2 separate regions of the Homo sapiens genome follow, and region 2 is linked to region 1. A link means that fine-mapping ties the variant in region 1 to the expression of a gene that starts in the linked region. Tissue or cell type: whole blood. Region 1 holds a variant in brackets; the other region holds the start of a gene. All regions are shown on one strand. Distances are between the middles of the regions.

The links. PIP is the estimated chance that this variant, and not a neighbour inherited with it, causes the effect.
Region 2: it holds the start of ABCC5, and the variant in region 1 is fine-mapped to the expression of ABCC5 in whole blood (INTERVAL, PIP above 0.99).

Annotation. Positions count from the first base shown.
Region 1 is chr3:183,976,747-183,982,411 of GRCh38, reverse strand. ABCC5 (ATP binding cassette subfamily C member 5) reads left to right here. Exons shown (of 30, transcript NM_005688.4): 8 at 538-685; 9 at 3,761-3,909; 10 at 4,788-4,895. Among named protein-coding and RNA genes, the nearest start is that of ABCC5-AS1, 27 kb to the left of the region's middle. The variant C/T (reference allele first, on the strand shown) is at 2,572.
Region 2 is chr3:184,015,425-184,020,756 of GRCh38, reverse strand. ABCC5 (ATP binding cassette subfamily C member 5) reads left to right here and starts at 2,873. Exons shown (of 30, transcript NM_005688.4): 1 at 2,873-2,927. RefSeq lists an enhancer at 2,476-2,655 and a silencer at 3,136-3,305.

The DNA.
Region 1 (5,665 bases):
TAGGAGATGAGTTACTTCCATTGGGTTATAGTAGGCATTGCTGAGGTCTCACAGCTCTGATTGGAAATTTCCTCAAAGCAGGTTCAATCTAGAGCTCGATAGTGCTTGCTCTATAGGGACAGAATTTTGACTTGAGAGGAGGTAAGGTGTCACTTGCATGAAAGAGAGTCTGAATGAGAAGGTCAGCTGGTGAACCCTGTCCCACTTGACATAGGAGTGTTTGAGTCACTGCGTTGGAGTTGGTGCTAAGTGATAGGGCCCTCCTGCCTCCCCTTTGGAAGCACTCAGTCTCTGTGGTCACTATTGAGAATAAATACTTTCTTGTCTTCATTGCCTTATAAAGAGATAAGAATTCAGTAATGTTTTATTACAATTCAATAGGTCACTTTTATTAAAGACAGTACGATTACATAACATTTGGCCCATCCTAGCAAGCAGGATTATATGCTCATTTTATTGAGAATGACCTTAAGCAGATTAGGTAGTTCTCAAGTTTGAATGAGCTTTAATTTGGCGTGGCATCGCTTTTCCTTTCAGATGTTTGCATCACGGCTCACAGCATATTTCAGGAGAAAATGCGTGGCCGCCACGGATGAACGTGTCCAGAAGATGAATGAAGTTCTTACTTACATTAAATTTATCAAAATGTATGCCTGGGTCAAAGCATTTTCTCAGAGTGTTCAAAGTGAGTTTAAAGATTTTGTATGTGCATGTGGTAGAAGGACCTTGGATTCTTTGGGTCTTATAATTCACACACTTTGCTTTCTGAGCACATTACGTACTAGGACTAGTGTCTAGTATCGTAGGACATAATATCATAGAATCTTTGTGTTCAAAAGGGATCTTAGAGGTTTGAACCCATAACCTCATCTCACTGATGAGGAAATTGAGACCTGGGAAAATGTTGATTTTTCCCAGTTAAAACACAGCTAGTTAGGAATAATCCAGTTTCGAAGCCCCCTGTGTATATTCTCATCCTGCCCATGATTTTCCAGCCTGGTCATGAGGCTTTCACAGAAGACAATATCAAATTACTACTGAGAGCATCACCTTTGCCCACTCTACTCTGTGGTTTCACGGGAAATAGTTTGTGGCCCTTGAGGTAAACTGGGAGTCAGGATGGCTGGATGCTGGTCCTAGCTCTGTCAAACGTGTAAGTGCCCACAAAGCTAGGAGAAATGGCACAGATGGGGCATTCAGAAAGATCTCAACACAAATTGAACCAGTGTGCCTTGAAACAGGTGAAATTTAAGTAGTAGATAATTAAAAACAAACACATAGATACTTAATTTAAATAAAAGAGATGAGGCTGTTGGTGGACCATAACCTCATCAGGAGCTGAGTCCAGTGCTGTGAAACAGTCAATGCATTATAGTTGGAGTAGAAATACAGTGTTCAGGCCAGGCGCCAGTGGCTCACGCCTGTAATCCCAGCAGTTTGGGAGGCTGAGTTACGTGGATCACCTGAGTTCAGGAGTTCAAGACCAGCCTGGCCAATATAGTGAAACCCCGTCTGTACTAAAAATACAAAAATAAGCTGGGTGTGGTGGTGCATGCCTGTAATCCCAGCTATTCGTGAGGCAGAGACAGGAGAATCGCTTGAACCCAAGAGGCGGAGGTTGCAGTGAGCTGAGATCACACCATTACACTCCAGCCTGGGTGTCGCAGCGAGACTGTCTCAAAAAAAAAAAAAAAAAACAAAACAGTGTTCAGAGCAAGGCAGCTGTTGTTTTCCTTTCATTGAGTAACCTTCAGGAACATGATGTCCAATTCTGGAATCTACATTTGATTTATGAGGGCTGTTAAGCTAAGAAGCATCCAGAGGAGATGAGCACTCAAGAGGTGCCCAGCAGTGGACGGGGCTGCCTTGTTAAGCAGTGAGTTTGTTTCTACTAGAGTGGAACAAATGGATTCTGAATGGACATCTGCCAGCAGGTTGATGGCAGGATGGCTGCCACTGGTCCCTTCTGGCTCTCTGATTCTGTAGTTTTATGATCTTTTTTCTGAAATTTCCCTCATCCATCAGCCCCTGACTGGTTATCTTTACCTGTATGTATTAATTTGAAAAGAGTGTTCTTACTCATTATAGACATGGCCAAGGTGTATAATACATGTTCAAGTAAGGAGTTCAGTGTTTTTATGTGACTTACAAGCTAGCTGTGAAGATAGTTCCCAATGCCTTAGGCAGTGGTAATACCTTTAAGGTCAGTGTATACCCTCTTAGAAGAATTAAGTATTTGCCAGGTACAGTGGTACATGCCTGTAATCCCAGCACTTTGGGAGGCCTAGGCGAGTAGATCACCTAAGGTCAGGAGTTCAAGAGCAGCCTGGCCAAAATGGCAAAACCCCGTCTCTACTAAAAATACAAAAATTAGCTAGGCGTGGTGGCACAGCCTGTAATCCTAGCTACTCAAGAGGCCGAGGCAGGAGGATCACTTGAACCCAGGAGGCAGAGGTTGCAGTGAGCTGAGATCACACCACTGCACTCCAGCCTCGGCAACAGAGTGAGACTCCCGTCTTAAAAAAAAAAAAAGTATTGGCCGGGCGAGGTGGCTCATGCCTTTAGTCTCCA[C/T]GCTTTGGAAGGAGAGACAGGATCACTAGAGCCCAGGAGTTCAAGACCAGCCTGGACAACGTACTGAGACCTCCTCTCTACAAAAAATAAAACATAACTGGGCATGGTAGTGCACATCTGTGGTCCCAGCTACTTGGGAGGCTAAGATGGGAGGATCACTTGAGCCATGGAGGTTGAGGCTGCGGTGAGCCGTGATTGTGCCACTGCACTCCAGCCTGAGCAACAGAGCGAGACCTCGTCTGAAAAAAAAGTATCTTATTGTTCTGCTTCCTGCTCCACGGTCTTCAGTACACTATGGTTGCTTTGCTAATATGGGGGTTGATTTTGCAAATATTTAAGAAAAATCATTCTGCCTATAGAAATTGTATTTCACCTATCTTCTTCCGGTTGTCATTACTGCATTTTTATATGGAAGCTTCTATCCCACTGCCAACATACAGCAGGCACTCTGGGAAATGTTAGTTCCCTCCCCACTGCCCCTTTTTTTTTTTTTTTTGAGATAAGGCCTGGCTTTGTCACCCAGTCTGGAATACAGCGGTGCAATCTCGGTGCACTGCAACTTCCACCTCCCAGGTTCAGGCAATTCTCCGGCCTCAGCCTCCCAAGTAGCTGGGATCATAGGCGTGTACTACCACACCCGGCTAATTTTTGTATTTTTAGCAGGGACGGGGTTTTGCCGTGTTGGCCAGGCTGGTCTCGAACACCTGACCTCAGGTGATTCCCCCTGCTTTGGGCCTCCCAAAGTACTGGGATTATAGGCATGAGCCACCGCACCTGGCCTCTTAGTCCCTCCCTTTTTAATTCTCCAGTGCCATTGTGTTGTCTTTCCTATTAATTCCTTAGGCAAAAAGTCAACAACAACCAGGTAAGCAAACACAACTGCCAATTATAGATACAATTAATGTGTTCATTCCTTCTCAACCTAAGAAATTTACAAGAAGAATCAGAAAAAGGTATCATAGAAGATGATGATTGAGTTCATACATAGTGACTGCTTTCTGTTAGATTCATTCCTGTCACTTGATCCATTTCAAACCTCAGCCTTTTATACCAGCTTTAGTGGTAGAGTTGATAGTCATAGGTGTTGAAGGGTGGCTGGAGACCTACAGAGTCTTGTTTGGAGGTGGAGGAACAACATCCCTAGGCTTCTTTTAACTTGCTTTGAAATTGGCTTGCTTTTTATTCATAGAAATCCGCGAGGAGGAGCGTCGGATATTGGAAAAAGCTGGGTACTTCCAGAGCATCACTGTGGGTGTGGCTCCCATTGTGGTGGTGATTGCCAGCGTGGTGACCTTCTCTGTTCATATGACCCTGGGCTTCGATCTGACAGCAGCACAGGTCAGGGAACCCTCAGGGATGGGGAACATTTTAGAAATACCACATTTGCTGGAGGCTGAGGCAGGAAAATCACTTGAACCCAGGTGGTGGAGGTTACAGTGAGCCAAGATCATGCCATTGCACTCCAGCCTGGGGGACAGAGCAAGACTCCATCTCAAAACAAAACAAACAAACAAACAAAAAAAAAATACCACATATGGAGATGATGCTGTGGTCCTCTCCTTACTGGACCTGGAGGTTCCCCCAAGAATTAGTAGGTATTTTTTCATTCATGGGATTAAGCTGAGAAGCAGAAGAGTGGGGAGCCAGCCCTTATGCACAAATAGTGTATGAGTTGTTTTTAGTCAACATAAGTTTGAGTTTAATTCTGAAATTACAGATCATCCTGTGGTTCATATTTACTGACAATTTTAATTGAAGGTCTCAAAAACTCTACTTAAAAAAAAATGTGGCCAGGCATGGTGGCTCACGCCTGTAATCCCAGCACTTTGGGAGGCCGAGGCGGGCGGATCACTTGAGGTCAGAAGTTTGAGACCAGCCTGGCCAACATGGTGAAACCCTGTCTCTACTAAAAATACAAAAATTAGCTGGGCATAGTGGTGCATGCCTGTAATCCCAGCTACTCGGGAGGCTGAGGCAGGAGAATTGCTTGAACCTGGGAGGTGGAAGTTGCAGTGAGCCAAGATCGTGTCACTGCACTCCAGCCTGGGCGACAGAGCGAGACTCCGTCTCAAAAAAAAAAAAATGTAATTGACTTGTAATAACAGCTGACCGTGAAGTTGCAGCCTTCCTAGCGCCTGAGAGGAAATTCATGGTGTCAGGTTACTTCAGTTGCATAGCATCATTAGGCACAGTTTCTTCTCTTCTCCTATTTTCAGGCTTTCACAGTGGTGACAGTCTTCAATTCCATGACTTTTGCTTTGAAAGTAACACCGTTTTCAGTAAAGTCCCTCTCAGAAGCCTCAGTGGCTGTTGACAGATTTAAGGTAAGTGGCTCCTTCCCCTGCCCCCGTGTCAGGAGCCCTCCCCACACAACTAACTGCTGGCTCTGTTCAAGGGGCCACCCAGGCTGGCCTCACTGGGCTTAAGCTTGGCTTTGGCCTTTTGGCAAGTTGGTAAGAAAAAGGGGGCAGTGGAGGAGACTGAATTGAGGGATGAGACTTGTCACCTTTTTTAATTAATGTGAATTTTTACCTTTTGTGAACGGCCATGATCTGGGCTCCCAGGATTGCAGAGTTCCCCTTTAGAGCTAGCCCCTTCCACCTGGGCCTGACATGGATGTGTCGCAACTCACTGGGCCTTGAAGTGGCTTAAACCTAGAAGACCAGCACTGTGGGGCATCTTCCCCTTGATCTTTGCTACTGTCACTTTGATTGATTGACATGCTGAATCCTTTTTGATACTTTCTTTTTCCTGCCCTGTGGTGCTACTCACGATGCAGGGAAAGCAGTTACATGGAAATAGTCATAAAACTAGGTCATGTTGAGAAGTGCAGTTAAGTAAGTCTCAGCTTCTTTTCTTGCAGGTGGTTAGTTGATCATACCTTGGCTGTGTTCTTTGTTCCTTCAGAATACTACACATACATGATACAAAAGGGAGTATATTTGGGAGGGTGGAGAGAAATAGATATTTGATAGTGGTTAATACTTAACAAAAAAAGGGATGCCATGTGGGCTGGAATTCCTTGATGTTGCCACTGCATAGATTAGCTCCTATGTCCCTGCTTGTCTTTATTGGCCAGTGAGAGGAATAAGAA
Region 2 (5,332 bases), 39 kb before region 1:
TATTTAATGAATATGTTTAGTACATTACACAACATAAATATTATTTAGAAATACCCACAATTCTGGCCGGGCGCGGTAGCTCACTCCTGTAATCCCAGCACTTTGGGAGGCTGAGGTGGGCCGATCACTTGAGCTCAGGAGTTCGAGACCAGCCTGGACAATATGGTGAAACCCCGTCTTTACTAAAAATACAAAAATTAGCCAGGTGTGGTGGGACATGCCTGTGATCCCAGCTGCTCTGGAGGCTAAGGCAGGAGAATCAGAATCACTTGAACCCTGGAGGTGGAGGTTACAGTGAGCCGAGATCTAAAAAAAAGAAAAGAAAGAAAAGAAAAGACACACAATTCTACACTGCAACATAGATTCTCTAGCCCCCTTGCCTGAGGGTTGGGAAGTATCGCCCCTCTAAACAGTTCACAACACAAACACATTTTGAGGGGGTAATTTTGTAAGTATAATTCTTTCACTCAGACTATACTTGGACAGACCAAGACAGTACTACAGTGTATTGAAGCCTGCCACCAAGGCTGTCTGGTGTTCATCTATTCTTTTTTAATAAAAAACAAACTATAATCAACATATATGAAGTATTTCAGCGGGATTTAGAAGCTTTTTAAAAAATATGATGATATCAGATCTGCAGTTTTGGGTGTTACAGTGTTTGAGGCATTGTTGGAAGGTACTAGAATCTTTGGTGAGGTGGTATCTCATTACTATTTTAATTTACATTTCCAGGCCAGGCGTGTTGGCTCACGCCTGTAATCCCAGCACTTTGGGGGGCCTAGGTGGATGGATCACAAGGTCAGGAGCTCAAGACCAGCCTGGCCAATATGGTGAAACCCCATCTCTACGAAAAATACAAAAATCAGCTGGGTGCGGTGGCCGGTGTCTGTAGTCCCAGCTACTCCAGAGGCTGAGGCAGGAGAATTACTTGAACTCTGGAGGTGGAGGTTGCAGTGAGCTGAGGTGGCACCACTGCACTCCAACCTGAGGGACAGAGAAAGACTCTGTCTCAAAAAAAAAAAAAAAAAAATCAATTTCCCTGATTATGAATGAGATTGGGTGTCTTTTCATATTTGAGTGGCTGCTCAAGTTTCCTATTCTGTGAGCTGTCTGTTCATGTCATTTACCTATTTTCCTATTGGGTTATCTGCCGTTTCTTACTGAACTTAGAAATTATTTTGAATATTTATTATTCAAAAACTTTGTCAGTTATAACTTGTGGTTTATCTTTTCAATTTATGCCATCTTTTAATATGGCAAAAATTATCAATCTTTCTTCCTTTATTCTTTGTTTCTTGTTTAAAAAGTTCTTTCCTACTCCCAAGTTCATAAAGATATTTCCTATCTTCTTCTAAAAGTTTTTAAGTTTTCCCTTTCACATTTAAGCGTTTGATCTACCTGAAATGGGTTTTTTCTGTGTGGTATGAAGCGGTAATCCCTGATTGTTTTTTCATATGTATAACCAATTGTTCCAGTACTATTTACTGACTCTTCTTGCTTTCCCCACGGATTCGTAAGGTTTTCTGTCACAGATCAAGTTACATGGATGCACCAGTCTGTTTGGGGGCTCTTTATTCTATTGCATTGGTCTATCAATCCGTGCGCAAGAATATGCTGCTTTACGATACAGTAGTGTCTTCACACTAGCTAACTAGCTAGCTGTTATAAAGATGGACAAGTCACTTTACCTTCTCCTTCTTCCTCTTCCTCTTCTTCTTCTTCTTTTTTAATCTTTGAATTAAAAAAAAATACGGCGGGGTGAGGTGGCTCGCGCCTGTAATCCCAGCACTTTGGGAAGCCGAGGCGGGCGGATTACCTGAGGTCGGGAGTTCGAGACCAGCCTGGCCAATATGGCGAAACCCTGTCTCTACTTAAAAAATACGAAAATTAGCCGGGCGTGGTGGCGGACGCCTGTAATCCCAGCTACTCGGGAGGCTGAGGCAAGGAGAACTGCTTGAACCCGGAAGGCGGACGCTGCAGTGAGCCGAGATCGCGCCATTGCACTCCAGCCTGGGCAACAGAGCCAGACTCCTTAAAAAAAAAAAAAAACTCATAATACCTACTCATAGGGCTGTAATGGAGATTAAAGGAAACAAGAATGGTATGTAAAGCATCGGATACAAGGTAGGGAAGAACTCAACAGTGGCTTTTATTTAATGATGCTGAAGGTACCGATGAAACAGAGAAATAAAGGGATCAATCTTTCTGGGAGCTTCAGTTTCATTTATAAAAAGAAGAAGATGAGTTAGCATAACATTTCTAAGGCTCTTGCCACTTCTAAGACTGTGATCCTGGCATTTTATTATCTAGAGACCAGGCAGCGAGACATTGATGGGCAGTTGGTGTTAAAGTGAGAAAGGCGGTATCTGCGCAGACTGCAGGGTCGAACCATGAGCAAGCAATCGTATCTGCCACAACAGATAAGAACTGGGGCTGGCCGGCCTGACGACTCTCAACGGGTTAGACGCGGGCTACGATGACCTTCACGATCTTTTCTGGCAGCTACACGGCCACGCAGGGTGGGACTGCTCTGCCTACGAACAGCACTGTGTGCGAACACAGGGCCACGGTTAAGCCTCCCGGCTGCCTCCCCCAGGGAACACGACCCCTGAGAAGATTCCAGACAGTCTCGCAGAGGCACGGGGAAGGATGGAACAGAGCCGGGAGCTCGGTGGGAAGAGGGGCAGCCCGCACCGCCCCCGGGATGTCACCGGCGCTTCTGGGAAATGTAGTCCTTCGCCGCGTCCGCAGCCCTGGGCACTCGGAAGGAGGACTACAGTTCCCTTCAGCCTTGGGAATGCTTTGTGCAGCGCGCTTGCGCGGTGTGGCGGCCGATGCCGCTATAAAGGCTTGTTTTGCTGCAGGGCTCATGCTCGGGAGCGTGGTTGAGCGGCTGGCGCGGTTGTCCTGGAGCAGGGGCGCAGGTAGGTGATGGCTGCTGCCGCACCCCTGCCCTCCAGCTCGGTTGTCACGGGGATCACCCCTTTGCATTTCCTCGGGGCGTGGCGGGATGTGGCCAGGGCTGCGAGCAGTTCGGGGGACACTGGAGACTTGGGGAACGGCGTATGGCCTCCCCCTGGTCTCCTGCCGCCGCCTCCTAGGCCTGTGAGCCCGGGGTCTGGTGACGGGGTCGTGTGCTGGAAGACAGGCAGGTAGGATCGGGATGAGCGGGCAGGGACGCGGGCTACGTCCCTGGCCGCGGCCGCCAGGGGGCGCTGCGCCCGCGGGCCGTGGGTGTGGGTCGCGCTCGCCTGGGCAGGCCGGAGCGGGCTGTGGGAACGCCCTAGGGCCCGGGCATCCCAGGCGAAGCGGGTCTGAGAGAAACGCCCACCTGGGAGGCTGTGCAGCGGGTGGCTCGGGGCACCCTGCTCAACCCGCAGCGGAGCCGCCAGCGACCTTCGAAGTAAGTCATCCCCTTCGTTTTTGCAAGCGGGTAAATGGAGGTACGTGACATAAGCACGCGCAGCAAAGCCGTGGCTGTGCCGGGAACGCAGCCCAGATCTCTCCACGGTCATCCAGTGCTCTTTTCGCTTCTGCCACACAGAGCCGCGGGTGGCTTTGTGTTTATCACACAGGGGCCATTTGGTTTCTGCACAGACGGAGAGGCTGGAGGCAGGTGGGCACAGGAACGACGGGGAAAGTTTCAGGAGGTCTTGGAGGAGGAGATGGCTAGGTTTTACTGTGGTCCGCAGCGTGTATGAAAGGTGAGGCTGCTTGGAGACGCAACAAGTGGATTACAGTGGGTGTGGTAAATACGTATCCCTTTAGCGTGGTGTCTTCCTCGTGCAGCTTGAGGGCCTGGAGGTGATGGAAACCTACTCATGAGTGTTGGGATGACTGCAGCTTGCACACACCAGTCTGGTAATCCCGTGCAACTCTCCTCCTGCCATGCAGTTGAATCAGTATCATTGTGCAGGGAGAGTGTCTACACTTTTATCAGTGGAAAGAGAATCTTGGTAAAAAAGGGCAGCTGACTAAGTGGCCTCAACCCTATTGGGCACTTCTTTGGGGTTCTCCCACGTTGATTATTCTGCTTCTACCCTTGTACATGTCTGGACAACAGGTTTGTTTTTTACAAACAAAAATCCCTTCTCTTTCTTCCTCTCTTGATAGCTGAGGCAAGTGAGCATTTAAAAAAGATATTCCAACAACTTTAAAGGAGGACACGAGAAGATAGGGAAATATAAATAGTATCAGTAAAATGGCTGGCCTGGGGATCCATCCTTGCTTGCTTGCTTGCTTCAGACTGGGGCTTTGTTTCTTTCCAAACCTGTCAGGATTCCCAGCTCTTCGCCGGCCTCCACGTGGGGTGCCCTCTTTTATGTTCCAGATACACAGACGATGGTGTCCTTATGTTCAAGGCCACAGACAGTAACTTTGTGCCTACTTTGGGCCTGCCTGCTCTCCTGATTGTGCCTCTTTTTCCAGGAAAGTAGAGATGAGTGTGTTAGAGATAATGGAACACTGTTCCCCACACCCTTCATACATAGAATAACTTAGTCCCTTAGGATAGTTTAGCAGTGTCTACCACAGCAGTCACTGTAGGCACAAAACAGTCATTATTTGTGTCATAACAGGGAAGTCGTTTTGTCCCTGCCTCTCTCTGCTCCTGTGCTCCACTGATTCTACTTCATCCTTTGAAATAAAAGTGGTTGAAAGAATCTTTGGTTATCATGGGTGCTTAGATAATTAAGATTATGTTCGTGTTCTTCTTGATGTGGCATTTCATATTGTGGATGAGTTCCAGTGACCTCCTCTGTTTCAAACTGCTCACCGCCCCAACCCCCACCTTTTAAAAAGGTAGTACTAATCTTTTCCTCTTCCAGATAATCAGCTAAGCTAGGGAACCCTTGAAGGGGAAGGTTAGAATTTCGTGATTCCCGTAAGAAGGTTACTCTGATCTACAGCTACAGCTCAACACTGGGGACACTGGCAGATGCCAGGTCTGTTTATAGTTTAGCCTTAATGAGGTCTCAATGACGTGATTGCTGCACTCTGGCTTGGTGAGCCGCTGTTCTTTATGGTGTAGTTTGTCATTGGACAAGGTGACTTTTTTTTTTTTTTTAAAGATAAGTAACAGCTATATCAACTTAGGGTACTTGAACCAGAATTCTGAAAGGCAAGAAATCAAGCTTTCTTTGGACTGGAAACCTGTCTTTGCATAGGAGATTTAGTCCTTTTTATTCAGAGGATTAGTAAGTGTTCTCTTTTTATCTGACACTTTAAAAATTGCATTATAATGGTTAGAATTTTGTGCTGCAGAAGTAGTAGTTTTAAGTCACAGCGATAGCCAGGGATTTATGGAATCCAGAAGGCGACACGGCTACAC